2 separate regions of the Homo sapiens genome follow, and region 2 is linked to region 1. The links come from fine-mapping of genetic effects on gene expression. A gene starts in region 1. The other region holds a variant in brackets. All regions are shown on one strand. Distances are from middle to middle. Region 1 holds the start of CDHR3 (cadherin related family member 3). Region 2 overlaps ATXN7L1 (ataxin 7 like 1).

What was found. PIP is the estimated chance that this variant, and not a neighbour inherited with it, causes the effect.
Region 2: its variant is fine-mapped to the expression of CDHR3 in breast (GTEx, PIP 0.93).

The regions. Positions count from the first base shown.
Region 1 is chr7:105,956,245-105,972,722 of GRCh38, reverse strand. CDHR3 (cadherin related family member 3) reads right to left here and starts at 9,459. Exons shown (of 19, transcript NM_152750.5): 1 at 9,359-9,459. The coding sequence starts at 9,404. RefSeq lists a silencer at 9,126-9,420 and enhancers at 9,003-9,954, 9,955-10,906, 16,007-16,478.
Region 2 is chr7:105,859,075-105,875,552 of GRCh38, reverse strand. All of the region lies in intron 2 of ATXN7L1 (ataxin 7 like 1), which reads left to right. Among named protein-coding and RNA genes, the nearest start is that of ATXN7L1, 9.3 kb to the left of the region's middle. The variant G/T (reference allele first, on the strand shown) is at 9,723.

The DNA.
Region 1 (16,478 bases):
GATATTATAGCATTCTTATGGTAAAAACCAGGAGTGAAAGAGTATGGTTGGAGTATTTAGAGACAAAGCTCTCAAAAACAGTTTTTCAAAATGAGCAAAATACTCTATTGCTTTGATGGGTTGGGTATTTGGGGCATAATTCCCTCCCATTCTCTTTTCTCGCAAATGCATACCTCTCTGAGCTGTTCATGAGAGTGTTCCCTCACTGTTTAGCAAGACAAGGACAGCTGTACAGGAAATGGAAAGTTGGCAATCTGTCTCATGGGATGCCCACATTCTCACCCATATTCTTCCCTTGCCCCCTCCAACCCTCTCCAGTGACTCGTGCCCCTCCAGGCAACAAGCAAAGTTAGAACTTGCTATGTTTTTCTCAATAATAGCCTAGGGTAAGATCGTGCCTAGCCCAAACGAATAGACTAAAATAAGTACCCATTTCATTTATCAAGCACCTGCTCAGCTGGCATCATGCTAGCTCCTTGACTGCCTGATCCCCTTAATCCCAGCACAATCCTCCGACATAGGTATTGCTGTCACCATTGTACACATCTGAGATTATACTGCTGTCACCATTGCACACATCTGAGATTATACTGCTGTCACCATTGCACACATCTGAGATTATACCACTCAGGGAACAGTCATGGAGGGCCCTGGCTCATGGTATCTGGATCTTGTACCTAACAGACTACACATACCTACTACAGACAGTCGGTCACTCCATGCCTGTCACATGACCATGCACATAGGATGCATCATAGTTATTCAGTCACCCTGGGACACTGCAACAACATGGCTGTGGGGGCTGGTAAGAAATTGACCTTTAACCTGGATGTTAGATCTTGATGATGTGATTTGTAAGAGGCTGTTTCTGGAACAACACGAAGAATTGTGCTGGAGTGTGAGCGTGGTGTGAGCTCAGGTAGAAGGGACTTGCTAAGCTCCACTCAGGGCTCTCCACAGCCTCACCCCGAGTGGAGAGATCACTGTGCCTCCCAACCTTAGTGCAGCTCCTTTGGGGAGCTGGGGACTGTAGAGAAGCCATGCTCCCCAAATATTGCCTGCTGATAGCTCCTGGTTTGCTTTGCTAGAAGTATATCCACTGATTTTCTTGAATTGATCATAACTTTGATAATTCCTGGGTCTGAGAGACTAATTCCATGAAAGATCCAGCATTCCAATCCTAGGCATCTGACTCCAAGGACAGCTCCATGATGTCTCCTTAAATCAGAGTGTTTTTTATCGTCCTCCTTGAATGGTCATATTTTGAATGGCAGTGAGAGATATTTTTGAAGAAGTGGATATAGCCAGTGACTCTCAAGCAATTTTTATTGGGAACCGCCTGTCCCATGTATGGTGAAAGCCAGACTGTCCTTGGATATGCCCTTTCTGCCGATATTCTTGCTAGAAATGATCTACATTTTTTCAGGTGGCCTCTCTTCCCAGGGCAAGGCCGTGTGTGCCAGGGTCATGCAAATGAATCCTTAAAACTTTGAGGCAGACCTAGGCAGACCTAGCAGTCCTAGGCAGTCCTTTGAGGCAGACCTAGGCAGTCCTAGGGATACTGATTTTTTTTTTTTTTTTTGAAATGGAGTCTCGCTCTGTCTCCCAGGCTGGAATGCAGTGGCGCGATCTTGGCTCACTGCAAGCTCTGCCTCCCGGGTTCACGCCATTCTCCTGCCTCAGCCTCCTGAGCAGCTGGGACCACAGGCACCTGCCACCATGCCTGGCTATTTTTTTGTATTTTTAGTAGAGACGGAGTTTCACCGTGTTAGCCAGGATGGTCTTGATCTCCTGACCTTGTGATCCACCTGCCTCGGCCTCCCAAAGTGCTGGGGATACTGATTTTTTTAAAAAGATAGCCAAGCTGGGTTCTCCTGACCTTAATTCAAAATCCGGTTTCTCCAGCTCTATTGCTATTTGTAAAAGAAGTAGTAGTAGTAATAATAGCAATAGCAAGGATAATAAGTGACTAGGGTCCATACCCTAAAAATAGAGTAATGAATAAGATACAATATTCACAAAATGTTAAACCCATCTGTTATACAGGTAAGCTTAAGTGATGTATCCAAAGGCACCCATCTGGTCAATGGCAGAGGGAAGATTAGAGGCCAGGTGCCAGCTCTCCCTAAAACACCGCATACTTTCCTTCCATGGCTGGTCTTCCAGGCTTTCTTTGGTGGTCTGAGTGCTAGAGAGCAAGAAGGAGGCTCTAATGGAATTTGACTTACACATGCATCTTAATTAAGAATCAAATTAGAATTGCTTGAAGCACGTACTTTGGAAAAGAAAGAGCATGCAAAAGATTTATTGTCAGCCATGGCGCCCACTGAAACATCTTGCTTGTGGCTAAGATCTGGATGCAGGATGTGCTCACTTGTCTCCCTTGAATCACTGCCTCTCCAGAAATGGACCAATGGGGCTTCCCTGGGAGCCTATGTTGGGATAATTAAGCCTTCCACAGTCTCAGAGAGGAGGAAGTTGGCCACCCTGGACCTTTGACACTGAAAGTGGAGATGCGGGTCAAGAATGTGGGGTGATGCCATCTTCTTCTTGGGGTGTAGCTGCTCTAACTTAGAGCTCTGCTTTCAATACACAGAGCAGGACTCCCTGAGACCATCACTCAATAGCTACCTCTTCATTCTCTCTAGTACCTAATCAAACAGCAGTGAACAAAATCAGTTCTGTGAAAAGAACGAGAGATTTGGAATCAGACCCCTGGCTTCAAGTCTTAGCTTTGCCACTGCTTGACTGTGTGACCTTAGGCTGGTCCCTTGACTTCTCTGGGGGTTCCTGTCAACTCTGTCTCTCAGGGCTATGGTGCTACATTAACAGTAGCCACTAAACAGGGTTCCTTTGCTAAAGAAGACTCATGGGACCCAAGTGACAATGCTTATAAATCTACAGTTTTATTACAGAAAACGGATACAGCATAGCAACAACATGAAAGTAAGGATATGCACTACAGCTGAAGGCTGCCTCAGCAGGAGATCCACAGAGGCCAGGTGCAGGCTAGGCTCTTACTGTTGTCTTTTCTCTATGGGACGGAAGAATGCACTGTCTTGGATCAGGAACAGCCAATGTATGCACAAATATCTTGGAATTATGGAGTCTTTACTGGGATTTTTTTCTATTTTGCTGTAGGCATATTCTTGTTCTATAACTGGCCTCAACGGCAGAACCCACAGAAGGTCCTCGTTGAGACCAGGTGCAAATAATCAATCCCACTGTTATCAATAAACAACGCTTACAAGCTGCTACAAACCATTCAGAAACTCCTAGGACCCACGGTTACAACGAAACACTTTTTTTTTTTTTTTTTTTTTTTGAGACGGAGTCTCGCTGTCGCCCAGGCTGGAGTGCAGTGGCGCAATCTCGGCTCACTGCAGGCTCCGCCCCCTGGGGTTCACGCCATTCTCCTGCCTCAGCCTCCCGAGTAGCTGGGACTACAGGCGCCCGCCACCTCGCCCGGCTAATTTTTTTTTGTATTTTTAGTAGAGACGGGGTTTCACCGTGTTAGCCAGGATGGTCTCGATCTCCTGACCTCGTGATCCGCCCGCCTCGGCCTCCCAAAGTGCTGGGATTACAGGCGTGAGCCACCACGCCCGGCCCACTTTTTTTATTTTTATTTTTATTTTGAGACGGAGTCTCGCTCTGTCCCCCGGGCTGGAGTGCAGTGGCGCGATCTCTGCTCACTGCAAGCTCCGCCTCCCGGGTACATGCCATTCTCCTGCCTCAGCCTCCCTAGTAGCTGGGACTACAGGTGCCCGCCACCACGCCTGGCTAACTTTTTGTATTTTTAGTAGAGACTGGGTTTCACCGTGTTAGCCAGGATGATCTCAATTTCCTGACCTCATGATCTGCCCGTCTCAGCCTCCCAAAGTGCTGGGATTACAGGCGTGAGCCACCGCACCTAGCCAAAGCAACACTATTAATCAGCATGCTTCATGCCTTGACTAGGGGTCAGTGTGGTTCACGAACTTCAGCAGAAAAATTCAGGCTAATATCAGGCCTATGGAAACTTATTCTCACAGCACAGATGCCACATAAGAAAATGCATATGCTCGGCCAGGCACAGTGGCTCAACCTGTAATCCCAGCACTCTGGGAGGCCGAACCAGGTGGATCACCTGAGGTCCGGAGTTTGAGACTAGCCTGGCCGACATGGTGAAACCCCACCTCTATTAAAAATACAAAAATTAGCAGTGTGTGGTGGCAGCTGCCTGTAATCCCAGCTACTTGGGAGGCTGAGGCAGGAGAATCACTTGAACTGGGAGGTGGAGGTTGTAGTGAGCCCAGATCACGCCACTGCACTCCAGCCTGGGCAACAAAGCAAGACTCCATCTCAAAAAAATAAAAAATAAAAAAAAGAAAGAAAGAAAGAAAAGAAAATGCATATGCTCAGTAAACTATAAAGCATTGTCAAATGTTGTTTCAACATATGCAACTTTTTCCTATTTCTTTAATTTCCACAATATATACCTCTTCCTGAATGAGATGTTCACCCACCCCCTTTTTTGGGAGGAACAAGGAACAATCCAGGCCAAGCAAGATTAACAGAAAAGAGCCCTTTATAGGACACAGAAGGAAAGGTGATTCAACTAGTGATTCTGTACATTATATTAGGTCGGTGTAAAAGTAATTGTGGTTTTTCCCTAGAAGAAAACCTAGGCAATACCATTCAGGACATAGGCATGGGCAAGGACTTCATGTCTAAAACACCAAAAGCAATGGCAACATAAGGCAAAATTGTCAAATCGGTTCTAATTAAACTAAAGAGCTTCTGCACAGCAAAAGAAACTACCATCAGAGTCAACAGGCAACCTACAGAATAGGAGAAAAATTTTGCAATCTACCCATCTGACAAAGGGCTAATATCCAGAATCTACAAAGAACTAAAACAAATTTACAAGAAAAAATCAAACAACTCCATCAAAAAGTGGGTGAAGGATATGAACAGACACTTCTCAAAAGAAGACATTTATGCAGCCAACAGACACATGAAAAAATGCTCATTATCACTGGCCATCAGAGAAATGCAAATCAAAACCACAATGAGATACCATCTTACACCAGTTAGAATGGTGATCATTAAAAAGTCAGGAAACAACAGGTGCTGGAGAGGATGCAGAGAAATAGGAACGCTTTTACGCTGTTGGTGGGACTGTAAACTAGTTCAACCATTGTGGAAGTCAGTGTGGCGATTCCTCAAGGATCTAGAACTAGAAATACCATTGGACCCAGCCATCCCATTACTGGGTTATACCCAAAGGATTATAAATCATGCTGCTATAAAGACACATACACATGTATGTTTATTGTGGCACTATTCACAATAGCAAAGACTTGGAACCAACCCAAATGTCCATCAATGATAGACTGGATTAAGAAAATGTGGCACATATACACCATGGAATACTATGCAGCCATAAAAAAGGATGAGTTCATGTCCTTTGCAGGGACATGGATGAAGCTGGAAACCATCATTCTTAGCAAACTATCGCAAGGACAAAAAAACCAAACACTGCACGTTCTCACTCATAAGTGGGAAGTGAACAATGAGAACACTTGGACACAGGAAGGGGAACATCACACACTGGGGCCTGTCATGGGGTGAGGGGAAGGAGGAGGGATAGCATTAGGAGATATACCTAATGTAAATGATGAGTTAATGAGTGCAGCACACCAACATGGCACATGTATACATATGTAACAAACCTGAACATTGTGCACCTGTACCCTAGGACTTAAAGTATAATAATAAAAAAAAAAAAGTAATTGTGGTTTTTACCATTACTTTCAATGGCAAAAACCAAGATTAATTTTGCACCAGCTAGGTCATAACTGGCAAGAAACAGACGTGTTTATCTTAGAGCATCACTATGGGGTGGGCCTGAGAAAGGCTTGTTTCTTTCAAATCTCTTCCAACTACATGGAGGCGAAAGTGGATGGATTCCAGTGACTGCCTGACTGCTTGCACTGGGGGTGAGGTTGCCATGGGCAAGGAAGAGCTGAGAGAAGGGACTGTCTTTTGTTCTTCTGAGGTGACTCTGAACAGGAAAGTGACATGACGGAAAAAGTAGAAACCTCTTGCAACACTCTTTGGGCCTGATACATAGGGTTAATTGGCTGACAGAAAGACTTTCTAGAAATGGATTGCATCTTCCAGCCTTTTCATATGATGAGAGCATTAAGAAGCATTTACATTTTAATTACCAAGGAGAATAAGAAACTCAGTCTTGGGCCTTTGTTTGATTTGCCAACACTGGCTAGCAGAGAACCACGCACAGATGATGGGCTGAAGAAAGCTGTGATTGCCTCTTGCCCAGAGCTTGCGGACAAACTCAGTTGGATGGGTTTGGTACCTTTTCATGTCCATGTGAATCTTCTGGCTCCCAAGGATCCCTTCTTTCATTAAATACCCTGGCATTTTTCATTTCCAGGAGGGTAATACAAAAGCTGGTTCCTTGGATGCTTCTTCAAAACATAGACAGCTTCCATGTGCAGTGGATTTAAAAATACCAAGGGTCCTTCTCTATGTCCTTCATCTTCTGGGACTCACATGTGATCCTTTGGGACTGATGGAGCCAGATGACTGCTTTGTCTCAACTCTTTCCACTGGGGCAGTTGAAAGTTTTGTCTAGTTTATATTCTTGTAGAGCCTCCCTTTGTAAGCTGTTGGTGGAATAGGCACTATAGCTTCACAAAGGGAAACTCATCTTCATAGGAGGTGGAAAGGACAGAAGTGAATTTAAATGTCAATATCAAGCAGGAAGAAGATCTAAAGCTCTACATTTGGGGTGTATCAGTAAATGTGGGGAAAAAACCATACCAGACTCAAAAAGTATAAAAATAAAAACAGCAAATATGTATTGGATATCCTCTATATATGTGGCACACAGGGACAATGAGCAATAAGATATATGAAATCTGTTATTGCAGGGCTGACATTCTAGTTGAGGAGGCAGAAATGGCCATATAACAGATGAATTACAGTATGATAGCTCATGCTACTTTTGGCTGAGCACTGAATCTGCATTAGGTGCTGGACTGAACTCTTTGCAGGCAGTCCATGTGCAGGCAAGAGGAGCTCCAGGGTGCAACAGCAGGAGCACTCCCCAGGAGCTAGGTCAATCCAGGAAGACTCCATGGGGGGGGGTGGGGCTTGAGTTGGGCCTTGAAGGAAGCATAGGAGTTAGAACACATGAAAGGAAAGAGGATACTCTATGTTACTTTATTTATTTACTTATTTTGAGATGGAGTCTCACTCTGTCGCCCAGGCTGGAGTGCAATGGCGCAATCTCAGCTCACTGCAACCTCCGCCTCCTGGGTTCAAGCGATTCTCCTGCCTCAGCCTCCTGAGTAGCTAGGATTATAGGCACCCGTCTTCATGCTCTGCTAATTTTTTACTGTATGTTACTTTATTTGAGATTATTATAGTGATGCCTGCTTCCAACAGCCTGAAGGGGTGCTGATGTGGCTGCCCCGCTAGAAGCCTCTGTAGCCCAGGTGTTGGAGTGTGAGGGTAATGACCAGGTTCTCAGACTCACAAAAGAAACAGTTTGTGTCACAGTAGCCCTTCCAAAAACAAGATTTGACCTAAGGGATTCTATTGTGTGTTTTAAATAAGAAATCTCAAGTATTTCTTGCAAACCTTTGTGATCTATCCCTTTCACACTTCTGATAAAATTCCAAATGATAGTGTTCAGTATAAGAAATTGGGTTCTTCCTAACCTCACTCTTTCCCCAGTGACAATAAAAGTCACCTCGACTCAAATGATTGTGGCCCTAAAAGCCCATATTTCTGGGGGAAATCTGAAATGTTTACTTCAAGTGACAGTCTGAACTGCTCATGGCCCACTTCACATTCACAGGTCATCCTGCCCTCTGCTGAGTTGAAAAGCCCAAGATAGAAGAGGGCTCAATATTAGGAAACCCAGTTATTTATTTATCTTATTAGCAGATCGAAGAGGAAAATTAAATGGTCATTTTCATAGATCTTGAAAAAGCGTTTGATTTAAAAATCCATTTTTATTTAGAAATAAGTACTTGAATATTCTTACATTTAGTTTTATTATATTTTTATTTAGAAATAAATACTGTAATATTCTTATATTAATAAGAATAAAAGCCACCTCCTTAACATATAAAACATTTCTCTCTCACACCAAAAGTTAACATCATGCTTAATGGGAAACAAGACAGGAATTTACACTCTTGTCATTATTTAATAATGGTCAGAATGTCCAGGCCTGGCAGTTAGATAAGAAAAAAATAGGAGCTATAGACATAGGAGAAGAAGAATATAAATGTTCATTTTTTCAAACGTGGAAAATTCATGAGAATCACCTGAAAAACCATGCCAAATAATAAGATAATTTGTTAACAGATTTCCATACATCATACAATAATCAGTTGAAAGATGTAGGGAAGAAGAGATTCCATTTACAAATGTAAAAAAAGAAAAAGTAAAAGAACTAGAAATAACCATAATAAGAATGTACCAAATCTATATGAAGGAAACCTCAAAATACTCCTAAGAAAAACAAATGAAGACTCAAACAAGTATCTAGAACCCTGTTCTTGGATTAGGAAGACTCAAGATCATAAATAATACTCACTAACATTTACTAAGCATTTACTATGTACTCAGACACTCTTCTAAGTATTTTACTACATAACTTGTCAAAGATGTAAATTATCCCTAAATTAATTTGCAAATTTAACATAAATTCAATATATTATGCATATACTACCTATTCAGAAATAAAATTTAATTTTAAAATCTCAATTTCAATAATCCAAGCTGACATTAAAAAGATCATCTAAGATTCTTGATGCCCTTGAATGAGGAAGAGAGAGTAAAATGATCACTAGCTTGAGTCTTTGACCCTTCTATCAGAAGGTGTTTTCTTTGCTCAAGAGGAAGACACCCCCTCAGTAACTCACTTTCCTCAAAGGATCACTTGTCAACCTCAAGTTGCCCTACGAGCCTCCAGAAAAGGGCCAGAATCTCCACAAAGACTCACTTGACATACTCACAAAGCTCTGCTATGAACACTATTTTCCCAACCTTAAATCTCAGGAGGACTACCAAATGCAGGCCAGTTAACCCAAGAGGGAAAGTGAAGTCTACACCAACATAGATTAGATTAGGCTCTTTAAGCATCTCTCTTTTCCAGGGCTCCTACCTGGTCCCCCAGGGCTCCCTGGAGCGGCATCACCTCATTCATTACTGCAGCTAAGCCCTCAATTGAACAAGCCTCCCAGGGGCAATTTCCTTTCTGGGGGACATTGTCATTCAATGGTATTATGCAGACCAAGTAGGCAAGCAAGGTTCCAAAGCAAAATTGAGTTCCTACCTGACATGGCACCCAGGAGAGCCAGGAGAATGATTGCTTCCTGCATACTTGATGGTCACAACTGTGCGTGCTTCCAGCACATTAGCCACAGCCTGAATCCCGTCTCACACCCAAAGTTTATTCCAGAAGCCACTCAGCTTCCCCTCCTGGTTTTGTTGCCATGCAAGAAATCAAACAGAGGCTTTGGCGGTAGCCAAGGGAGACTCCAAACACCACAGGACTGTTTGTTCTTTGATTACCTGCTTCTGTGACTGCATAGCACCCAAGAGACCAACCAGCCAGTCCTGGTCAGCTCAGAGTTTACCTTAAAAGTCCACACTCACCAAGTGTCTCAACCAAGAGCTCCAAAAGAGAAGTCAAAAGAGAAAACCGAGACACGGAGACCACACTAAGAGCTGGACGTGCGTAGTCCACCCATGATGGTCTCGGTCGCCCTGTAGCCAGGCTTGTGGTCATTTCCAGAAACAGGGGTGGGAAGTGGGAGTTTTTCTGCTGTCCTGAATCAATGAGTAGGATTCAGACTTGGGAATTAACTGGCACTCGTTCTAAAGACAAGATCTGAGAGCTGGGAGCAGACCCCTCCTCGAGGCTGACTTGAGGTGGAAGACTGCCCTCTGACTCCACCCCCCACCACCGCCCCTCCAGCCCTCGAAGAAGGCTGTGAAGGAAGGTTACTGGAGTGGTGAGGCTTCTGCCCACTGGGGAGTGATGCAGGTCTTGCCCTTCACGATGCCTTTCTGTTCCACACAGCCCTGTGCCAGGGCACAAGATGTGGCATGTGAACAAACGCGGGCTGGGGTCTAGTCTCCACTGAGAAGGAGCAACAGCAGAGCAGAGAGAGAACGGCCGAGCAGTGGCCTGTCCCCTTGACATGGTGCAGTAAGAGAAGTAGTGGGCACAGTGGAAGGCAGCTGGGCTTGGACCACCTCTCCCATTCCTCTGCCAGCTAGGGGAGGAGAGGCCAGCAGCCCAAGGCTGGGGGCAGGAATGCAGTGAAGAAGGTGGGGAGTTGAGTCAGAGCCTCCCAGTCTGGACGAGACCCCACAGGCGCTCTGAAAACTACACATGCCCCACAGGTGAACCAGCTTTTAGCACCTGCTACACGGAGGTCACCAACGAGGGATAGAGGGAGACAGTGTTATGGAACCAAACTGGGTCCACTCACCCTGTGCAGTAAAACCGGATATCCACACCGAGGTTTTTGCAGCAATAGAAAGGAAGGCATTTATTTGCAAGGGTGCCAAGCAAGAAGGGCTCAGAGAGTGAGGGGTTTGACCCAGGCTGCGCCACCTGCCAGTGTCCCCTGTGTCCCCTGCGTCCCAAACCTAGGGTGGCAAGGCTGCCCTTCCCTTCCACCACATCCAAACATTTGACAAGCCCTTTCCAGCCTCCAGGGCCTGCTGCCGGGCCCCTTCCCATGCTTGTTGCTACTGCCCTGGCTTAAGGTCCTTGCCTCTGGCCTGGGCTCTGGCCCGCAGCACATCCTACAGAAACTTAGGTTAATTTCCCCAAAGTACAATTTTGGTCATTTACTTTCCTGCTCAAAATAACAAGAACCTTTCCCTTAAGAAAAGTTGACTTTTCTTGTGTAAAGCATGAAGGAAAGGTAGTAAGATTAGGAAAGCTAGTCGATAGGTCTCTGTTCGAAGCACATAGATAGTAACAACAACAACAAAACAAAAGGGAGTGTTGCTGTGTCACCTTTGGCAATTTACCTAACCTTTCAGAATCTCAGTTCCACTCACTTCTGTAAATCAGGGAAAATAATACCTGCTACACAGTATCATCGCAAGCGATACACAAGAGAAAGAAGTGAAAGAAACTGGCCCATACTATGTGTTTTAAAAATACTTTTTTTTTTTTTTTTTTTTTTTTTGGAGACAGGATCTCACTGTCACTCTGTCTCCCAGGCTAGAGTGTAGCAGCGCGATCATAGCTCATTACAGCCTCAATCTCCTGGACTCAAGCAATCCGCCCACCTCAGCCTCTGGAGCAGCTGGGACCACAGGCGTGCACCACCACACCAGGCTAATTAAAAAAATTTTTTTTTTAGAGAGGACGTCTCCCTATGTTGCCCAAACTGGTCTCAAACTTCTGGGCTCAAGCGATTCTCCCACCTCCGCCTCCCGAAGTGTTGATATTACAGGCATGTGCCACACTATTTTTTCCTAATAGGACCCTGGCAAGGGCTGAAACATAGTAGGTACTCAATATATATTGGCCAAATAAAAAGAAAAATAAACAACAGTTGCCAAGCTACCAATTCTCACCTCTCAGTTTTTCCTGTCATGTGAGATACTGTAAATAATCCATTTCATTATGCATAATTCAAGCTGAAGCGATGGCTCAGATTAAGTTATGGAAAACGTCAGAATGATTAAACTTTTGTATTAAAGAAACTCACATCTGTTTAGTTTTCAGCCTGACTGCACAGCATTTTTCATGTTACCCTGTTTTTACCAGGAGATCGTGCCTCCCCTTCCTTTCCCTCCCTGGTTCTAGGGAGCAAAAGGGTCATCTTTTGGAATTCATTGTGGGTGTTTTCTCCTGTAATTACAGCTTCTGTTTCCAGCCCCGAGGTTGTTTCTGCCATTGCCGCGGGCTGCTGCCCATGTGTCAATTCCCATCTCCCTCCGAAAGCACCTAGTCCTAGCACCAGACACCCAACTGGGCCTGAATCGCACCAAGGCTGAATGGGACCTTGCGGTCCTTGGCTCTCCTGTCCCTGACTGCCAGCATGCTGAGCTGTCCTGGATCCACCAAGGTCTCAGCCAGATGGGATGAATGGGTTCCTCAGGCAGGGTCGGAATCTCTAGGGCAGGCACCCCTCCAGCTTCACATGAGACCCAGGAGCCTTCTCCTACATGCTGTCTGGCTCAGCAGTGATTCAGGCCCTTAAAGTATTTCAGGGGACTTCCCTGGGAACTAGCTACTGTAAGTGTCTAATTTGCTAGCAAAGGAGTTGTGTTCCAAACATTTTTTGACTTGGAACTTGGAACTCAATTACCCTTACATAATCTATAACATATAGTCATGCACCGCATAATGACAACATTTCCATCAACCATGGACTTCGTACACAATGGTGGTCCCATAGATGATAATGGAGCTGAAACATTACTATCAACTAGTGACGTTGTAGCTGTTGTAACATCATAGTGCAACATGTTACTCATGTGTCTGGGGAGATACTGGTGGAACAAACCTACTGCACTGATAGTTATGCAAAAGTCTAGCGCATACGGTTATGTACAGTACATAATACTTATAATGATAATAAATGTATGCTGTCATTTTAGAGTATACTCCTACTTATTTAAAAAAATAAAGCTGGACAGGCACCGTGGCTCACGCCTGTAATCCCAGCACTTTGGGAGGCTGAGGCGGGTGGATCACAAGATCAGGAGTTCAAGACCCACCTGGCCAACATGGTGAAACCCCGTCTCTACTAAAAATATAAGTTAGCTGGGCATGGTGGTGAGCACCTGTAGTCCCAGCTACTTGGGAGGCTGAGGCAGGAGAATCTCTTGAACTAGGGAGGCAGAGGTTGTAGTGAGCCGAGATCGCGCCATTGCACTCTAGCCTTGGTGACAGAGTGAGACTCCATCTCAAAAAAAAAAAAAAAAAAAAAAAAAAAAGCTAATTGTAGAACAGCCTCTGGCAGGCCCTTAGGAGGTATCCAGAGGAAGGCATTGTTATCATAGAAGATGGCAGCTCCATGTGTGTTATTGCCCCTGAAGACCTTCCAGTGGGACAAGATGTGGAGGTGGAAGACATGACATTGATGATCCTGACCCTGTGCAGGTCTAGACTAATGTGTGTGTTTGTGTCTTCATTTTTAACAAAAAAGGTTTGCAAGTTAAAAAAAAATAGAAAAATAGTATAGATTAAGGCTATAAAGAAAGAAAATATTTTTGTACAGCTGTGCAATGTATTTTAAGCTGTTATTACAACAGAGTCAAAAGTTTTAAAAATATAAAAGTTTGTAAAAATGTTACAGTAAGATAAGGTTAATTTATTATTGAAGAAAGAAAAATTGAAAAATAAATGGAGTGGACTAAGTTTACAAACTCTACAGTAGTGTACAGTAATGTCCTAGGCCTTACATTCACTCACCACTCACTCACTCACCTACAGCAACTTCCAGTCCTGCAAGCTCCATTCATGTTAAGTGTCCTATAGAGGTGTACCATTTTAAAAAATCATTTATGCAGTTTTTTGTTGTTGTTTTTTTTTTTTGACGGAGTCTCGCACTGTCACCTGGACTGGAGTGCAATGGCACGATCTCAGCTCACTGCAACCTCCGCCTCCTGGGTTCAAGCTATTCTCCTGCCTCAGCCTCCCAAGTAGCTGGGATTACAGGCACCCGCCACCATGTCCAGCTAGTTTTTTGTATTTTTAGTAGAGAGGGGATTTCACTATGTTGGCCAGGCTGGTCTCAAACTCCTGACCTCGTGATCCACCCACCTCGGCCTCCCAAAGTGCTGGGATTACAGACGTGAGCCATCGTGCCCGGCCTTATGCAGTATTTTTTAATGTACTTTTTCTATGTTTACATATACAAATACATACCATCGAGTTACAATTGCCTACAGTATTCAGTACAGTAACATGCTGTACAGGTTTGTAGCCCAGGAGCAATAAACTATACCATACAGCCCAGGTGTGTAATAGGCTATACCATCGAGGTTTGTGTAAGTGCACTCTATGATGTTCGCACAATGATGAAATTGCCTAGTATTGCATTTCTCAGAATGTATCCCCATCATTAACTAACTGTACTTGTCTGTATTTTAAATATTACAGCCTTAAGATGAGACACAGAAGTACTGTGCAATGGCTGGGCTCTGTTAGCAGCTCCACGAGCATTGGTGGGCTGGCCTGCAAGCCTCATCACCTTTATATCTGCGGGGCAGTTCTGTTCATGGTCCGTTTGTTCAGGACTGGAACTATGGGCTTCCAGGAATCCAAAACCTAGAACAGAACACCCAGGTTCCATCATTCAAGCACCTCCCCCATCTCAGGCCTCCCTCAGGAAAGGCACTCAGGGTAGACCCATGCTCACAGCAATGGTGCCATGCAGATGCACAAAGCTGCTTGCAAGAATAGAAACACATCCCTCCCCGTGTCTTCTTTGTGGGCCACTGTCCTAGCACACGCACTGCTTTAGCACCACATCTCATGGATCTTTTATACATCTGTCTCCATGCAGCCTTGGCAAGTTTTCCAGGACAGAGAAGCTCTTATGCTTCTTTGCACTCCAATTGCTTCACATTTAACACTGTGCCAGATGCATAGTAAGTGCTCAAAAAACATGGAATTACTGATCTTACTTTATACTTCCTTGCCTCGTGCCATGCTCTCCTCTCACACCCACCCCAAACATCGACCCAGTGAGAGCCCCCCCCGCCCCCGCCAGCTCTTGCAGGGATAGAAATAAAGAAGTGCCACAGCCCTTCTCACTTCTAGAACCCCGGAGCTGCATCCCCTGACTGGCCTTGAGGACCATGGGAGGGGCTCCTCTGAAGCCAAGGCTCTCAGGACCCACTGGTAGGGTCCTTTTCCTGGCTTCACAGGTGGAAGAGTGACTGAGAAGACGTCCTTGGGGCTCAGCCCCACCTGACTCCAGGGCACCTGCTGTGACTGTGGGCTAGGCTGCCTGCTCTCTGGGCTCACGTCCCCAGATAATTCTTTTTTTTTTCTTTAAACAGTTTGTGATATAATTCACATACCTTACAATGCACCCAGTTAAAGTGTACAATTCAGTGATTTTTAGTATATTCATAGAGTTGTGCAACCATCACCATAATCAATTTTATAACATTTTCATCCCCCCCAAAGAAAAACCTCTTCAATCCTTAGCAGTTACTCTCAATTTTCCTCTAACTCTCGCCCCCAACCCTAGCAACCACTAATCTACTTTCTATCTCTATAGATTTCCTTATTCTGGGCATTTCATATGAATAGAATCATACAATATGTGGCCTTTTTAAAATTTTTTTTTTTTTTTTGAGATGGAGTCTCACTCCATCACCCAGGCTGGAGTGCAGTGGCGTGATCTCAGCTCATTGCAACCTCTGCCTCCCAGGTTCAAGTGATTTTCCTGCCTCAGCCTACCAAATAGGTGGGATTACAGGCGCGTGCGACCATGCCAGGCTAATTTTTGTATTATCAGTAGAGGCAGGGTTTTGCCATGTTGGCCAGGCTGGTCTCGAACTCCTGACCTCAGGTGATCCGCCTGCCTTGGCCTCCCAAAGTGCTGGGATTAGAGGCAGGAGCCAGTGCACCCAGCAATATGTGGCCTTTTGTACTGGCTTCTTTTACTTGCATAATGTTCTTTGGGTTCGTGTATTTTGTTGTATGGCTCAATACTTCATTCCTTTTTATTGCTGAATAATATTGGGTTGGTGCAAAAGTCATTGCGGTTTTTGCCATTACTTTTAATTACTTTTGCACCAACCCAATATTATTCCGTTGTATGGATAGACCACAATTTAATTTTCTTATTAATCAGTTGATGGACATGTGGGTTATTTCAACATTTTGGCTATTAAAATAATGCTGCTATGAACATTTGTGTACAAGTTTTTGCACGACATAGGTTTTTATTTCTCTTAGGGAAATACCTAGAAGTGTAATTACCAGGTCATATGGTGATTCTACCAGGTCATTCTTGTGGGCAATTGTCTAACTGCTTTGAAGCCAGCTCCTTCTCCAGCATCCTTCATTGGCTTCCTGGAGCCCCCTACCCCAAGCTATGGGTCTCCTCCTACTTACCCTCTCTGCCACTTTGTTCAAACATCTTCATGCCAGCTGATTCCTTCTTCCCCCTTCTCCCTTTAGGTGGCATTTATTTATTCACTCAAGAAATATTGAATACCTACTGTGTGTCAAGCCCTGTTGTGCATGCTAAGGTTATCGCAGAGAACTGTTTTGTTCTCTGAAGAAAATGCCTGGCCACAAGCAACAGATTCTGTAGAAGCACCCCTCCTTCCATCCATCCAGTCAGCCAGCTGTGGCTCTGGTTGAAGCTCACCGCATGGCAGCACTGAGAGGTGACAGCATGCTGGCATCCCTCGCTCGCTCGCTCTCGGCGCCTCCTCTGCCTGGACGCCCACTC
Region 2 (16,478 bases), 97 kb after region 1:
ATATCTGCCATTCTCCTTGGGAGCATCATTGCCAAATGGTGGGGCGTTAAAATTTCTGAAATGAAGAGTGGAGTTCCCTTCACAAGCATCCCAGCCTTTCTCGTGGGTGAATGCACAACAGCTTAATGAACCCCACATGGTCAGTCATTCCAGCAGCTACTTCTCCACTCACCACTGAAAACCATTGTACATGGCAAACCTTTGCAGCAAGTTACATTTGGCCCACTTTGCATTTGGTCACAGATTGTTATGTGGCAAGCAGGGTTAGGAGCATCTGTATGTGCAGCCCCTCAGCAGTCATCATCTCTCTTTTCCCAGCATGGAAATACGGTACCTGAAATGGGACACACTGAGTAGATAGGTCATCCCAGACCAAGATATGCAAGAGAAGCCACAACCTGCTGCAATTGGGCATCAAACACATATGGTCGTCATAAATAAATCATATCCTGTTCTCATTTGCAAGCCTGCCGTATGTAACTCTGGCCTATGGGCTTCAAATGGAGCAACTCCGGGGGCCACTTGCTGCTAAGCAAATAGGTGGATTCATTTGAATTGTGATTCACTAACTGATGTCTTATAAACATAATTGGCTGAAATTGGGGGTGGGAAGATGGCACAAGGGGACAGAAGAGGTTGGTGGTATTGAAAGAGTTCAGACATAAGTAGGCCATAGGTGCATTGGTCATCCCAAATGAATGGAGAAAAGGCCATTAGATGCCAAAGAATGGTCCCCCTCATAAAAAGGGATGTCACCCTGGAAGGCAGCTGAAGCCTGCGTGGAAAGATGGAACTCATTTTATGAATCAACACTTCAGATGGTTGGTTTTCTGTGCCCAATCATTTCCTGACCATCCACTGAGAGGAAATTTTGTGCTTCAGAAAAAATAACATGAAGGTTAAAATGCGTACATATTCAAGGACAGTTCCCTAGCATAATGTTTCTGCTAATTAAGCACTTTGGGAACAAAACATTATTCTAAAGATGTTTGCTTCTAAATATCTTAGTGTGATCTTGACAGGTGTCTTCAGGATGCACGAGGGATTGATGTCAAGTGGACTTCTTACAAGTGGCAGCTTATTTGTGTTAAATGTTCATGTGTGTTGGCAGTGGGAAGCATCACTAGAGATTATTTTTCTTCACACACAAACTCTTGAGATCTCTAAGTGCTTGCAAGACCCAGTTATCAGGCTACTGGCAACGTGTCCATAAAAGATGATGAGGCTGTGGAAATCTTTAAATTAAAGTTGAGTAAAGGTCATGGTATAGCACAGGATTGTCACCTCTCAGGTCTGGGTGATGCGTTATGACTATCACACACAAAACTCACATCCTTTCCCCCCAGTCCCTGTTTCTATTTCAGAAGACTGTTGTTCTCAGATTCTCTTTGCCTCATGAGAAACAGATTTTTTTTTTTTTTTTTTTTTTGATACGGATTCTCACTCTGTCGCCAGGCTGGAGTACAGTGGTACGATCTTGGCTCACTGCAACCTCCGCCTCCCGGGTTCAAGCGATTCTCCTGCCTCAGCCTCCTGCATAGCTGGAACTACAGGCACGTGCCACCACACCCAGTTAATTTTTGTATTTTTAGTAGAGACGGGGTTTCACCATGTTGGCCAGGATGGTCTTGATCTCTTGACCTCGTGATCTGCCCACTTGGCCTCCCGAAGTGCTGGAATTACAGGCATGAGCCACCGTGCCTGGCTGAGAAACGGATTCTTTTAAGAAAAAATGAAAAGCTCTCCTTTCCTCAGAAGTCACAGGTGGTACATCCCGCTTATTAGGTCCTTTGTCCTATAAAGGTACGAAGATTTAGCTCCTAATTATACATATTTGCATTAAGGACACCCACTGTTCAGTGTAACTTGAAATTGCTAACTTCACCAAAATAGCCATATATGGGCTGAAATCTCTTTGTTCACAGGCCTGGTGGAACAGACTTGGGTGAGCAATTCCTGATGGTCTTTCTGGTATATATGCATGCAGTTTTCTTTATAGATAAAATATCTATATACTGAATACGTATTCCCCCATGGTGAGAAATTGAAGGGTTGAGCTGAGACAGGGTGTTTATTTGGTTACCTGGATCTCCAGTAATGCTTGCCATGGGCCCTCTTTTTGGAGTGATCAACAAAGTCCTGGGACGGATACATGTTTGTGGATGGGTCACTGCAGGACACAAAGTAGCCTGTGTGTGGCTGTGTACCTGTGCTTATGAATGTATGTAGATTGTCCATGACACTGTTGGCTTTAAGCAGGTCTTGAGAAGAAATTCGGCTTTAATGGGAATGAATGAACAAAATACAGTTTAGAAATTCCAACTGGGAATTGAAGGGAAGTGGTTCCGATTTTTGTTGTTGTTGTTGTTTTGTTTTGTTTTGTTTTGTTTTGTTTTTTTGAGACGGAGTCTTGCTCTGCCGCCCAGGCTGGAGTGCAGTGGCGCAATCTCAGCTCACTGCAAGCTCCGCCTCCCGGGTTCACACCCTTCTCCTGCCTCAACCTCCCAAGTAGCTGGGATTACAGGCGCCCGCCACCAAGCCCGGCTGATTTTTTGAATTTTTAGTAGAGATGGGGTTTCACCGTGTTAGCCAGGATGGTCTCGATCTCCTGACCTCGTGATCCACCCGCCTCGGCCTCCCAAAGTGCTGGGATTACAGGCATGAGCCACCGTGCCCGGCGGGTGGTTCCGATTTTGATGTTTTTTTTTTTTTGTGGTAAAATATACATAGCATAAAATTTATCATTTTAACCATTTTGAGTATACAATTCAGTGGCACTAAGTACTTTCATAATATTACACAACTATCATCACTTTCCATTTCCCAAATTTTCCATCATCCCAGTCAGAAACTCTGTACCCATTATGCAATCACTCCCCATTCCCCATTCCTCTCAGCCCTGGTAACCACTGTTCTACTTTCTGTCTCTATGAAGTTGCCTATTCTGATACCTCATATAAGTGGAGTCATACAATCTGTATCCTTTTGTATCTGGTTTATTTCACTTCGCATCTCTTCATAGCTCATCCATGTTGTAGCATGGATCAGTACTTCATTCCTTTTTAAGGCTGAATAATATTTCATTGTGTATATATACTACGTTTTGTTATCCACTTATCTGTTGGTGGACATTTGGGTTGTTTCCATATTTTGGCCATTTTGAGTAATGCCACTATGAACATTGGTGTCATATATTTTTAATAGACTAAACTCAGGAAGAGAAGTTAGGCTGGAAATGTGAAATAAGAATTATTTTGGTTTGGCCAGGCATGGTGGCTCACGCCTGTAATCCCAACACTTTGGGAGGCTGGGGTGGGTGGATCAGGAGGTCAGGAGATCGAGACCATCCTGGCTAACATGGTGAAACCCCATCTCTACTAAAAATACAAAAAATTAGCCGGGCGTGGTGGCACGCACCTGTAGTCCCAGCTACTTGGGAGGCTGAGGCAGGAGAATGGCGTGAACCCGGGAGGCGGAGCTTGCAGTGAGCCAAGATCGCACCACTGCACTCCAGCCTGGGCGAAAGAGCGAGACTCCAGCTCAAAAAAAAAAAAAAATTATTTTGGTTTCTACCTCTATCTGGCCACAACTTCAGAAGACACAGCAAGGACTTGCAGACTTTTTGAATAACTTGATTACTGTAATACAGTTCCCCATTCCTCACCCCTTTAAACTTTCTTTCAATTCTTTCCATTTCTTTCAGTTCTCCACCTATAAAGTATGAAATGTTAACTGGATGCTTTGAAATGTCTGTAATAAAGTTTTCATGTCATTGTTATTATTTCATCTAAAATTAGCTAAATTATAGCTAAGAGGAATTTGCCAATTTTTTTTTTTTTTTTGAGACAGAATCTCGCTCTTGTTGCCCAGGCTGGAGTGCAATGGCATGATCTTGGCTCACTGCAACCTCCACCTCGTGGGTTCAAGCGATTCTCCTTTCTCAGCCTCCCAAGTAGCTGGGAGTCCAGGCATGCGCCACCACGCCCGGCTAATTTTGTATATTTAGTAGAGATGGGTTTCACCATGTTAGCCAGGCTGGTCTCGAACTCCAGACCTCAGGTGATCTGCCTGCCTCAGCATCCCAAAGTGCTGGGATTACAGGCATGAGCCACTGCACCTGGCCCCAAATACTTTTGAATGTTGTCATCACCTGGGTTCAGAAGGCGTTGCTAGATCCATGGGTGGATATGCTTAGATGGGCTTATATCCAGGACAACCTGGGTACTGGAAGGAGCAGGATAGCACTTTGAGTCAGCTTCCTACATTTTGATCTATGCCCTTTGGAAGTCGTTTCACTTCTCTTGGCCTATTTGCCCATATTTAAAGAAAGGGGGGTGGAACTGAATGTCCTCTAAGGTCCCTTTGAGACCTCTGAACCCAAGCTTCTCTATTGAATGTACCTTCCTTTGAGATGCAGTTATAGCAGGCAAACTGTTTCTAAAGAAACTTAAAAAAAAAAAAAAAAAAACCCAAGCCCTCACATTAAAAATATCTTAAACTACTTCAAAAATAACTGGGTTTATTTTCTCAATTTATAACTTCTTGGTGGCAAAAATCACTGCATCTCATACACAAGCAATATTCTGCTGCAAATCATTTGTGAATGGTATTTGGCCTTCAGCATTCCGAGAAAAGTGGGGTTCTGAGTCCAAAACCCAATGTGTTCCCCTAGTGAGGAATGATTTGACCCCAGTCAGCTTGGATCAGTCAGGCATTCAGATTTCCTGAGAGGAGGACTCCCAGAAACCTTATTAGCCTAATCTGTGAAAGGTGTTTATGAGAGAAAATTCCAAGGACGGCCATTCTTCTGTGCTAACCTTTTCAAATAATTTCCTCCTCAGCTTTTTCAAGCTAATTAGGGAAAAGCTCTCAGTGATTTAGAAAGATGTTCCCCTTGCCTCACCTGAATTTTTTTTTAAAGAATACCAATTCATAGATAAGGAATAGGGTTCCTGTGCCTCATAAGTGTCCCTAACTATAAGACAGAAAAGAATAAGGTTGTTGTGATGATTAAATGAGATAATACAAAAGGGCTTAGCACATAGTAAGTGCTTAATGAATGTTGGCTTTTACTATTATTATCATTATTAATGAAGCTAGCTCTAGAAAACTTTATTCTAATTAGGATTTTAAACTAATCTGTGATGAAAAGAAAAGATACGTAGCAGAAACTTTATTTTTAGAGTAAACCATTTTGTTGTAATTTTATGACACTAATGATTTTTTAAAGAAACAATTTCTATGGATATCAAATTTTTTTTTTTTTTTTTTGAAATGGAGTCTCCCTCTGTCACCCAGGCTGGAGTGCAGTGGTGCGATCTCAGCTCACTGCGACCTCCACCTCCCAGGTTGAAGTGATTCTCCTGCCTCAGGCTCCCGAGTAGCTGGGACTACAGGTACCCACCACCACACCTGGCTAATTTTTTTGTATTTTTAGTAGAGGCTGGGTTTCACCGTGTTAACCAGTATGGTCTCGATCTCCTAACTTTGTGATCCGCCCGCCTCGGCCTCCCAAAGTGCTGGGATTACAGGCATGAGCCACCGCACCCGGCCAGATATCAATGTTTTTAATAGAGTGCAGTTAAGTGATCATTGATAAGTTTTATCAATAGCTGTCGAATAATACTTAGGCTGTATATGGCCTATGGCTAAGAAGAGTTTATACAAAGTTCTTTCTAGGGACTGGGAGATCTAAAAAACTTTTTTCAATGATCGATAAGTTGTTTTATTTTATCACTGAGAAAAAAAAAAGTCCTGAATAGATTCCTGTTTGGGTCTCTTGGAAGCCTACACTTGTCACTTTGAAAACTTGCCTGTGTTTTAACGTTCCCACATGTTTTGATGTGATGTAGATAAACTGGTGGAAAGTTTCCAATTTGAAAATTGTGCTGGGGCCAGTAAGATATTGCTGTGACTATAAGAGTTTGCTGTTCTTCTGAGATGCTGGTGGAATTGGGCTGGAATATAGGAGGGTGCAGAGAACATAGGAGCATGTTCAGCTCAGGCTTAGGAGTCTTGCAGTTGTGGCTGGATGGGAGCAAATTGGAGAAGGTGGCAACTGACCTGGTTAAGAATGAAGTTTTCTTAGAATCCAAGCCAGAGAAGCCAGCAGCAGGCCATGGAGATTTATGGGAAACTGCGAACAGCTTCCCTTTATCATTATAGACAACTCTGTTATCTATGTTAATAGGAGATGGGAAGACACAAAGTCCACAGATTACACAGATAAACCTCATTTTTACCATTAATTTCAACTTCATTCCCCATTAAGCCTACCTTCCTCCCCTTTTGCTAACAAGCAGTAACATTTGTTCACTTTGGCGTTACATTATCATCTCTCTTATCTGGCCCAGCTTTTGGGATGGAAGGATGGGAGAGATGGAGCGGCTTAAAGGTGGTAGGGAGGAAAGATGAGACGGAGAAGGGAAGGGCTTGGAGACCTATAAGCTCTACAGGTGCAGCCCACTGATGGAGCAGGGGCATGCCACAACCAACACAACACAGATGAGAAAGGACATCCTGATCATCTAGTTTGGAAAATACAAAGCTTCCAAAATGAGTATTTCTTTATACATACAATTATTTCCTTGTGCCTGGGTTCCCGTGTGGAAGAAATGTGGCTCTGTCTACTTCCACAACAGGAAGCTAGAATGGACACACGGAAACACTGTATATGATAATTTGCCTTCTAAGTTGCCCTGTACCAGGGTCTCATCCTGTATCATTCTATGAGAATAATGTTTTTACTGCTAGAAGATGTAGACCATTACACACACATACACATTCATTTTAAAACTACTTATTTTTTTTAATAATGTTCATGTTACAAAATTCAAAAGGCTATCCAAGTGGAAAGTAAGTCTCCCTCCCACCCCATCCCCAGTTGCTTGTGTATTCTTCCAAAGATATTCTGTGTGCATTCAAGTAGATACATATATAATTTTGTCTTCTTGTTCTCACGTGAATGATAGAAACCTATAGTATTAGCTGATATCTTGCCATTTCCATTTATCTTAGAGAGCTGTCCATGTCAGTTCATGAGAAGTCGCCATGTTCTCTTTTGGTGCCTGCATAGTAGGGTAACAATTTAAGCCTCTGGGTGTCTTGCCAAGTTTTTAATACGCTCAACTGTTTCTCAGCCTCCCTTATGTGTTTGACCTGGAGGGAGCTCTCCTGACGTGCCAGAACTGGGCTAGACACCAGGGACACAGCAGTGAAAAACCACAACCCCTGCCTGCCCTCAGGGTGCTTCCAGCCTGGTGGCGAAAGTACAGGTAGACCGCGATGAGTGCTCTGATAGGGAAACTCAGGTGCTGCTGGAGGTCATGGTGGGGGGGCCTCACTGAGGTAGGGGCTCAGTGCCGGCCTCCCAGAGGAAATTTTATGTAAGCTAAAACCTGGAGGATACAGGAAGTTACCCATGTGTAGAGCTGGGCAGGACAGAGTTAGAGGAAACGACAGGGATAAAGGCCCAAGTGCCAGAGAATATAGACTGTTCTGAACCTAAAAAGTCCTCTTGCTGGAGTAAAGATAGCAAAGCACACAGTAGTATAATATTTCTCACCAGTGGCACCACTGATGGTTTGAGCCAGATGCTTCTTTTTGGGGGCGCTGTCCTGTGTATGGCAGGATGCTGAGCCGCATCTTGCGCCTCCACTTGCTAGATGCCAGCAGTGTCTCCCTCCCCTCCCCCAAGTTTAGACAACCAAAAATATCTCCGTACATTGCCAAATGTCCCAGGGGGACAAATCGCTCTGATAGAGAATCACTGGCTGGTGAGGCTGGAGAGGTAAGAACACAAGAAAAATAGACTAAGATACAGAAATATTCTGCCAATATCTGTCCATGTGTTAGGCCTTCAGCCCATGTAAGTCAGCCTTGTCGATTACTCAGCAGATATACCTGTACTGTGACTATCCCCTGGCGCTGAGCTACATTTGGGAGGATCTAAAGAGAGAGAAGCCTCGGTCCCCCAGGGAACCCTCCTCCCAAAGTTCCCAAGATGACTCTTCCAAACCTTGGAGTCCAGTCTGCAGTCACTGGTGACAATAGTGAGTTGCAGGTTCTAATTCTGGGTGGCCCAACCCTCCTTCACTGTGGGTGGAGGAGACCCAAAGCATCAATTCTGGTAATGATGGCATTTATTATACAGTGGCCCCCGATGTCAAAAGTACCACATCGCATTGGTGAAGCAGTAAGGATTTCAGTTTATATTTAAAGTCAGGCTGAAAATACAACTGGCGTTCTCTGCAGTTTGATTACCCACGGGATATGTCTGAAATGGGGATGCACATGACGGAAAGCAAAGTGGCTGCTTTCATGATTTCCATGTTAAGCCTGGGAAGGTACAAAGGGCAGGGGAGGGTCTGATTCCTGAGGCCTTCTGACCTGTGTGCCAGGTGGTCTGCAGCATCAGTTAAGACTGTGAGGCCATGTTGATGCTTTCAGCCGGCGGTTCCCAGGGGCCTGCCGTCTCTGCTGCAGAATTGATTTAGAAAAGTTAGGCAGATTTGTTTCTGTATGGTTTTCCGGGTTGGTTGCATTTATATCCTTCAGGTTAACGTTTCGTTTATGACATTTTGTTTCATTCATGACATATTTCAGAAGTAGGCATAAGATGGTAGTACTCAATGCAGTGAGACCTTGTCCTGGTCAAATCCCTCTTCTCTAAGGACCCCACACACTGAGGTGGCCCACTATTCACATCTGGAGACAGTGGTCACTGAGTGATTGCAATAATCAAACATAGCCGTAATGGAGAGGGAGAGCTTTAGCCAGTGGGTTCTACTTTTTCAGAATATTGTAGGAATGGCAAGGACTGACTTCTGTGTGTGACTGTCTCCTAAATCTCCCGGTCCAGTGTTCTGCTGATTACGTGCTCCCAGCTGATGCCGTTTGGCTGGCATTCTCTTACTCTCTCCTGTGGTAGAGCTCAGACTGCCAAATGGACCTGGATTTGGACCCTGAGGCGCTTGAACTAATGATGAAACCTCAGGAAATCCCTTCTTGCAAGTGGGCTGAGGCTACAGCGGAGCATCCTTAATATTCAGGGGCTAGACCTGGCTGCCCTAGTCGTCTATAAGTGAAGCTGGAATTCTGCTGTGGGGAAAGCAATGTTTTTATGGAGACACTTTATCCTTGTACCTGTGGTTTCTCAACACAATTCTGCTTGCCAATTTTAAGGGATCAAGTGCTTACAGAAGAAATGGAAACCAAATAAATACTCTCCAGGGCAGGACGAAGTGGCACCAGGTCACCATAATGGGGAAGATAAAAGTGAGTCGATGACAGGCTCTTTGAACACAGAAGCACTTACCGGTGTACCTGATTCTGTGATGCTAATTGTAAATCTGTGAACATTAATGGTGTAAGGATACCCTTAACTGTAGGGGGAGTGTGAGTTACGTGACCTTACCTCAAGGCATTGACAGGCCACAGAGTCCTGGGGTGGGGTGGGGACACAGGACACCCAGTCCGATGATATTAACCACAGGTGAGTTCAGCATTCCAGGGGTATGGAAGATGCTGGAGACATGGTCCCAGTTTGGTTATATCAGACCAAGGTGATAGTCCAGTTCTCAAAAAGTATATGAGTCACAAAAGGACAAATACTCTGTGATTCCATGTATAATGAAGTTCCTAGAGTAGTCAGATTCATACAGACAGCGAGTAGAATGGTGGGTATTCAGGGGCTGGGGGAGGGGAAACGGAGAGTTAGTGTT[G/T]CCATGATACAGAGTTTCAGTTGGGGAAGATGCAAAAGTTCTGGAGATGGACTGTGGTGATGGTTGTACAACATTGTGAATATACTTAATGTCACAGAACTAACCGTACACATAAAAAATGGTGAAAATGGCCCGGGTGCAGTGGCTCACGCCTGTAATCCCAGCACTTTGGGAGGCCAAGGTGGGCAGATCACGAGGTCAGGAGATCGATACCATCCTGGCTAACACGGTGAAACCCCATCTCTACTCAAAATACAAAAAATTAGCTGGGTATGGTGGCACGTGCCTGTAGTCCCAGCTGCTCAGGAGGCTGAGGCAGGAGAATCACTTGAACCCGGGAGGCGGAGGTTGCAGTGAGCTGAGATCGCGCCACTGCACCCCAGCCTGGGCAACACAGCGAGACTCTGTCTCAAAAAAAAAAAAAAAGTTAAAATGGTAAATTTTATGTTATGTGTATTTTACCACACACAAAAAGGTTCATTGGCATTGCAGGCTTGGGAGTTTAATGGAGCATTATTTAAATCTTGACCATTTATTGGCTGTGTATTAAATTAAGCCTCAATTTCTACTTTTCTTTTCCAGAGTAGGAATAATAGTACCTATCAGAATTGTTGTGGAAATAAATGAGATGCTATCTGGTATAAAGTAGGTACTCAGTAATGGAAGCCTTTGTTGTGATGATCGTTGTTTTTACCGGGCACTTGGGTCTTCGCCTTTGTCTTAAGAGCTGCCACTTCCAGGGGACAGACTGCGTTCTTACTGCTCCGGGGGATGCCCGGGGCTCACCAGGCATCTTTTGTCAACTTGTATGTCTCCAGTTCTTTAAGGATGCCCCGAATAAAGACAAAGGGATTGGACTGGTGTCCCTGTACTGTTAGTTTCAAGAGTGAATCTGGGGCTGGGCACTGTGGCTCATGCCTGTAATCCCAGCACTTTGGGAGGCCCAGGCGGGTGGATCATGAGGTCAGGAGTTCGAGACCAGCCTGGCCAATGTGGTGAAACCCCATCTCTACTAAAAAAAATACAAAAATTAGCCAGGTATGGTGGCATGTGCTTGTAGTCCTAGCTGCTTGGGAGGCTGAGGCAGAAGAATTGCTTGAATTCGGGAGGCGGAGGTTGCAGTGAGCCGAGATTGCACCACTGCACTCCAGCCTGGGGGACAGAGTGACACTCCGTCTCAAAAAAAAGAAAAAAAAAAAACGAATGAATCTGTTTCAATGTTTTGCAAAGTGTGTTCATTCTGGAGACCCTGCTGTGTTGTCCTGTAGGGTACTTCGTGCCCCCGGCCCCAGGCTGGTCATACTAAAACGAAACAACCGGGAGTGAAGCACAGGAACCAGGAATGTCCTTTTTTTTTTTTTTTTTTTTTTTTTTGAGACAGGGCCTCTCTCTGCCACCCAGGCTGGAGTGCAGTGGCATGATCAAGCTCACTGCAGCGTCGATCTCCAGGGCTCAAGCGATCCTTCTACCTCAGACTCCTAGGTAGCTAGGACTACAGGCGTGTGCTGCCATGCCTGCCTAATTTTTTTTGACTTTTAGTAGAGACAAGGTCTTGCTATATTCCCCAGGCTGGTCTCAAACTCCTGAGCCCAGGTGATCCTCCCACCTCGGCCTCTCAAAGTTCTGGGATTACAGGTGTGAGCCACCACACCTGACCAGGAACGTGCATTTTAAACAGGCTCCTCAGGTGGCTCTGTTGTTTCCTGAACTTTGAGAACTACTGTTTATTGGTTGAGAGAAGTGGTTCTCAACCCTGCCTACCTTGAAAATTCCTTGGGAAGCTTTTTAAAAGCAAATATGCCAGGACCACCCACAGAGATTCTGATTCTATAGATCCAGGTTCAGGGGTTCTAGGGAGCTGCTTATGTATTTCCTTTTGGAGTTTTTTGTTTGTGTTTTAAATTTATTTTTCTGGTACCTTTTGGGCTAAACACAGCCCAACTTATGTGTTTTTTTGTTTGTTTTGTTTTGTTTTTAAGTAACAATCCTAGCTGTCTTTTATTGGGCATTAACTAGGTGCCAGGCACAGGGCTAAATGTGCATGTTCGCATTTAATCCTCATGACCACCCTGTGAGGCAAATCCTGTTATCAACCCTATTTCAGAGATTGGGAAGCTGAGGCTCAGAGAGGTCAAGTGATTTACCCAAGGTAACATAGCTGGGGAATAGTAGAGCTGCCCTGAACCCCAAGGCAGGCTGATTCCAGAGACTGTGCTCTAAGCACTGTGTCCTGATGTCTGTCATCCTAGGAGCAGGGTTAGGACTAAGGGGAAGCAAGCAGGCACCCAGGACACCTGTTTAAGGAGGGGCTCACGTGGGCTTCTGCAAGTGCGGAGTGAGTGCCCCTTAAGTGTTGCACCTGGGCACCTGACTTCACTCATCCTCTCACCATCCTTGGCCAAGAGAGCTTGTTCTTTAAGCAAAATGGCAAGGCTGAACTACCTTTCATTCCCCCTTGACTGTGTAAGCCAGTGGCCTCCTGATAGGGCCCTGGGTCTCCCCATCAGGGAAACGCTCTCTCATTCCAAGGCCCCAGCTTTGGGGCCTCTGTGGCCAGAGTCCTGGCCTCAGGGAAATCACAGGAGCTAATGCAAACTGTGTTCCTTTTTGGGAGAAGGTGTTAGCAAAGATGGTTGCCAAGCAACTCCAGGGGCGTCTATCTAGAGTGATGATTTCTCTCTTTTTCCTCCTTTTGAACATCTTCTAGGCCGCTGTTCAGTTTCCCTCATGGCATTGGGATTGTTAGTAATTTCATGAAGGGTGTGCTCTCTAGGATGATGGAGCGGAGATCACTCTTCAATACTGCCACATTAGAGGTGTCCTTTTGATGGTGATATGCCTGCTAAGTGGGTGTGAAAGTCCTTTACCTTCTTCAGCCACAGAGATGCCCTAGTTGTCACTGTCTCTGAGAGGGCAGTGACAAAGAGGATCCTTTGGATTGGAGTGGCTGGGAAAGGCACAGAATGCATCTCCCACATGAGGACAGGGCGATGTGGCAACATTTACTTCCCGTGACTTTGGATTTCACCCATTCTCCATTAACTGGGACATTTAAGCATTTTATAGTGATTGCCCTGCTGGTCCCAGAGGAGCTGGTGTCACCCCCCTGTCTCTCTCTCAGTGGTTTCACAGACCAGAAGAGTCCTTGACAGTCCTTTCCTCCTCAGTGCTGTCCCCTCTCCTAATTAATCACCTCCTCTGTGTGGGGTTTCAGGTGACCTTCGATGGGCCCCAGACCCCATTGTCTACCAGCTGGTGGTTTGATTCTTCTGATAAGGACCTGGAGCTTGTGGGTTCAAGCACCTTTTACACTTAATGGGACAGAATCCCAGCCAGACTGTCAAGAAGAGGGTGATCCACTGGAAAAGAGGAACTGGTCACATTTTTGGGTGGGAAGGGGCAGTAGCTCGGTCGCCCAGGCTGGAGTGCAGTAGTACAATCATAGTTCACTGCAGCCTTGACCTCCCGGGCTCAAGTGATCCTCCCACCTCAGCCTCCCTCCCAAGTAGCTGGGCCACAGGTGCACGCCCCCATGCCTGGCTAATTTTTTCTATTATTTTTAGAGACGGGGTCTCCCTATGTTGCCTAGGCTGGTCTCGAACTCCTGGGCTCAAGCGATTCTCCCACTGCAGCCTCCCACAGTTCTGGGATTACAGGAGTCAGCCACCACGCCCACCAGAACTGGTTACATTTGCTTAAGGTTGAATCCATTTGGCCAACCCATGTACAACAGCCCTGTTAGCCAAGTCCCCAGACTCCAGGCTTCTGTTCCCTTGAGTTACTCCTTCCATCATTGTGCCCTTCCTCATCATCTTTTGCAGAAGCGGGGCAGGACCCAGAGAGAATTAGGGACTCAGATGAGTCCTGCCACTTTCAGTGGCTGAGACAAAAGACTTAATGGCAGAACACAAACCCGGTACACAAGCCAGGTTTAAACAGAGTAGGGGCTTATTTGCTTTCCAAATGGAGTTACTGGGCATTTCTTTAAACAGTAGACAACCCTACAGCTTTTTGAAAATCATATTTGCTTCACAGAAGTTTTCATGGCACCCGCTTTTGTGCCCTTTCTGCCAGCTCCTCCCTTGGAGCGTGAGGCTTTGCCCTCGGTTTGCTCTGCATTTGCTCCGGACCCTGGCTCCTGTTCACACCCCAGGTGGTCCCTGTGTGTGGCGATTCTGACATGCCTGCAGCTTTCCTGACCTCTCCTCCACAGAGTGCTCATCCCACCCCCGGGTGCCGCACCAGACAGCCCCTCACAGATGTCATTGTGCATCTCAGACTCCACTAGACCCAAGAGCAAGCCGAGCCTGTGCGTTTTCCCCATCACTATCTTTAGAAAGACCCCCTCCTCCTCTCCTCCCTCCCTCCCATCTTAGCAATTCCCTGCACCTCTCCATCTCTCTCCACTCCCCCACCCCCATCCCAGCTAGCCTGCCTCATAGCCTACCTAGATTTTTATAATAGCTATTTAATTGGTCTTCCTGTCTGTATCTTCCCTGCACACCACTTCAAAAATTAATCTTCTGAAAATTCACATGTATCAGTTTGTTCCTCAAGTGAAAACCTCTCAGCACTCCCTCATCGACCAGTTAACACAGCATTCAAAGTCCTCAGTCCCTTCCTATCCGGACAGGTGGCCTGCCCTTTGCAGCAGCACTTTGGACAAGTGGAGTCCTTTCCCTGCCCCCTTCTCTGCCTCTGCCTGCCCTCTGCATCTAGTGTCTTCCCCTTCTCCCCTTCCCCTTGCCCCTCATCCTCCTTCCCCAGGGCCAGCCATACTTTCTAAGGAAGCCACCCTGCCGCTCGGGCCACCCCGCCTGGACCTTCTCCGCACCCTGTGCATGCTAGCCATGCCCAGCGTGTACTTTGCCCCCAAATCTCGCACCTCCTTGCACTGCTGCAGACTCTTCCCATGGTCCACATGTGTCTTGTCATCATAGCTGCATTAGAATCTTCTGGAGGCAAGGTGGAGGAAAAGCGATCATATCATCCCCTTTTCTTTCCTAAGTTATCTTTCAACCAGCAGTGTTATAGTTCGACTAAGCATCTTGTTTTTGAAATACCTGTATTGTCTTTTTCTTTTTTTAAGAAAATTGTGGTAAAATACTATACCATCTTAACCATTTTCAAGTGTAAAGTTCAGTAGTGTCAAGGACATTCACATGATTGTGTAGCCAATCTTCATAACTCTTTTCACCTTACAAAATTGAAACTTCATACCCATGAAACAACAGTTCCCATTTGTATTTTCATTTTTAAAAAGTCAGTCTGGAGATGGCCTATGAGGTTTTTTGATTCACCATCTGATATTTTGAAGTTGTCAAGATTCTAAGAACTGGAAGGACTCCTAAAGTTTCTGTTCAAGTGGATAGCTGGAGCTACAATGCAAAACACAGCTCACCTTAGGACATTAGCTCCAGCATCCTAGGTCAGCAGAGAAAATTCCATGAAAAAATGCTACCGCTGGGGTGCAGAGTCACAGACATCTTTGAGCACCTAAAGTTTTTCATTTAATATTCAGTAGTAACCCCCACTCTGCACCATTCTCTTTTTTGCCCTTGCAGCTCAGTGTTAAAATTTTTCACATGTATAAAAAGGTTGAAATAACGGTACCATGATCACCTATAGAATTAAACATTAGTTCACATTTTGTCTTGTTTTCATATATATATATATATATATGTATATATATATATATATATTTACATATAAAGATCTATCTGTATATATGTCTTATAAAGAAATATACAGGCCAGGCATCGTGACTCATGCCTGTAATCCCAGCCTTTGGAGGCCAAGGCGGGTGGATTACCCGGAGTCAGGAGTTCGAGACCAGCCTGGCCAACATGGTGAAACCCCATCTCTACTAAAAATACAAAAATTAGCCAGGCATGGTCACACACACCTGTAACCCCAGCTACTTGGGAGGCCGAGGTGGGAGAAATGCTTGAGCCCAGGAGGCAGAGGTTGGAGTGAGCTGAGATCGTGCCACTGCACTCTAGCCTGGCCAACAGAGCGAGACTCTGTCTCAAAAAAAAAAAAAAAAAAGAAAGAAAGAAAAAGAAATATACAGTCATGCATTCCTTAATGATGGGGATATGTTCTGAGAGTTATGTCATTAGGTGATTTTGTAGGTGTGCAATAGGCTATGCCATCTAGGTTTGTGTAAGTTCACTCTATGATATTCCCATTGGTATAACCTATTGCTCCTAGGCTACAAACCTGTACAGCATGTTGCTGTACTGAATACTGTAGGTAATTGTTGTAACACAATGGTAAGCATTTGTGTCTCTAAACAGATTGAAACATAGAAAAGGTACAGTAAAAAATATGGTATTATATACTCTTATGAGACCACTGAGTATGGGCCTGTTGTTGACCAAAGTGTCATTATGCGACTGTGTGTGTGTATATGTATATGTATGTGTATATATATATATTTATATTTCTGTAGCATTTGAAAATAAGTTATAGACATCACGACACTTCACCTTTAAATATTTATCATTTTTCCACATCTTGATTGTGCTACCTTGAGCTGTTCACTTAAATTCTCAGAGCCTCATCATACATAAATATGTATGTATGTTTTTGCTGAACTATTTGGTAAGTCACAGACAGCATGACACCCCTAAATACTTCAGCATGCATCTCCTAAAATTAGAGGCATTCTCTGGCCTAATCATAATACCAGTATCACACTTAGAAAACTAATGGTAATTCCATACTCATATCTGATACCCAGTTCTCGTTCAA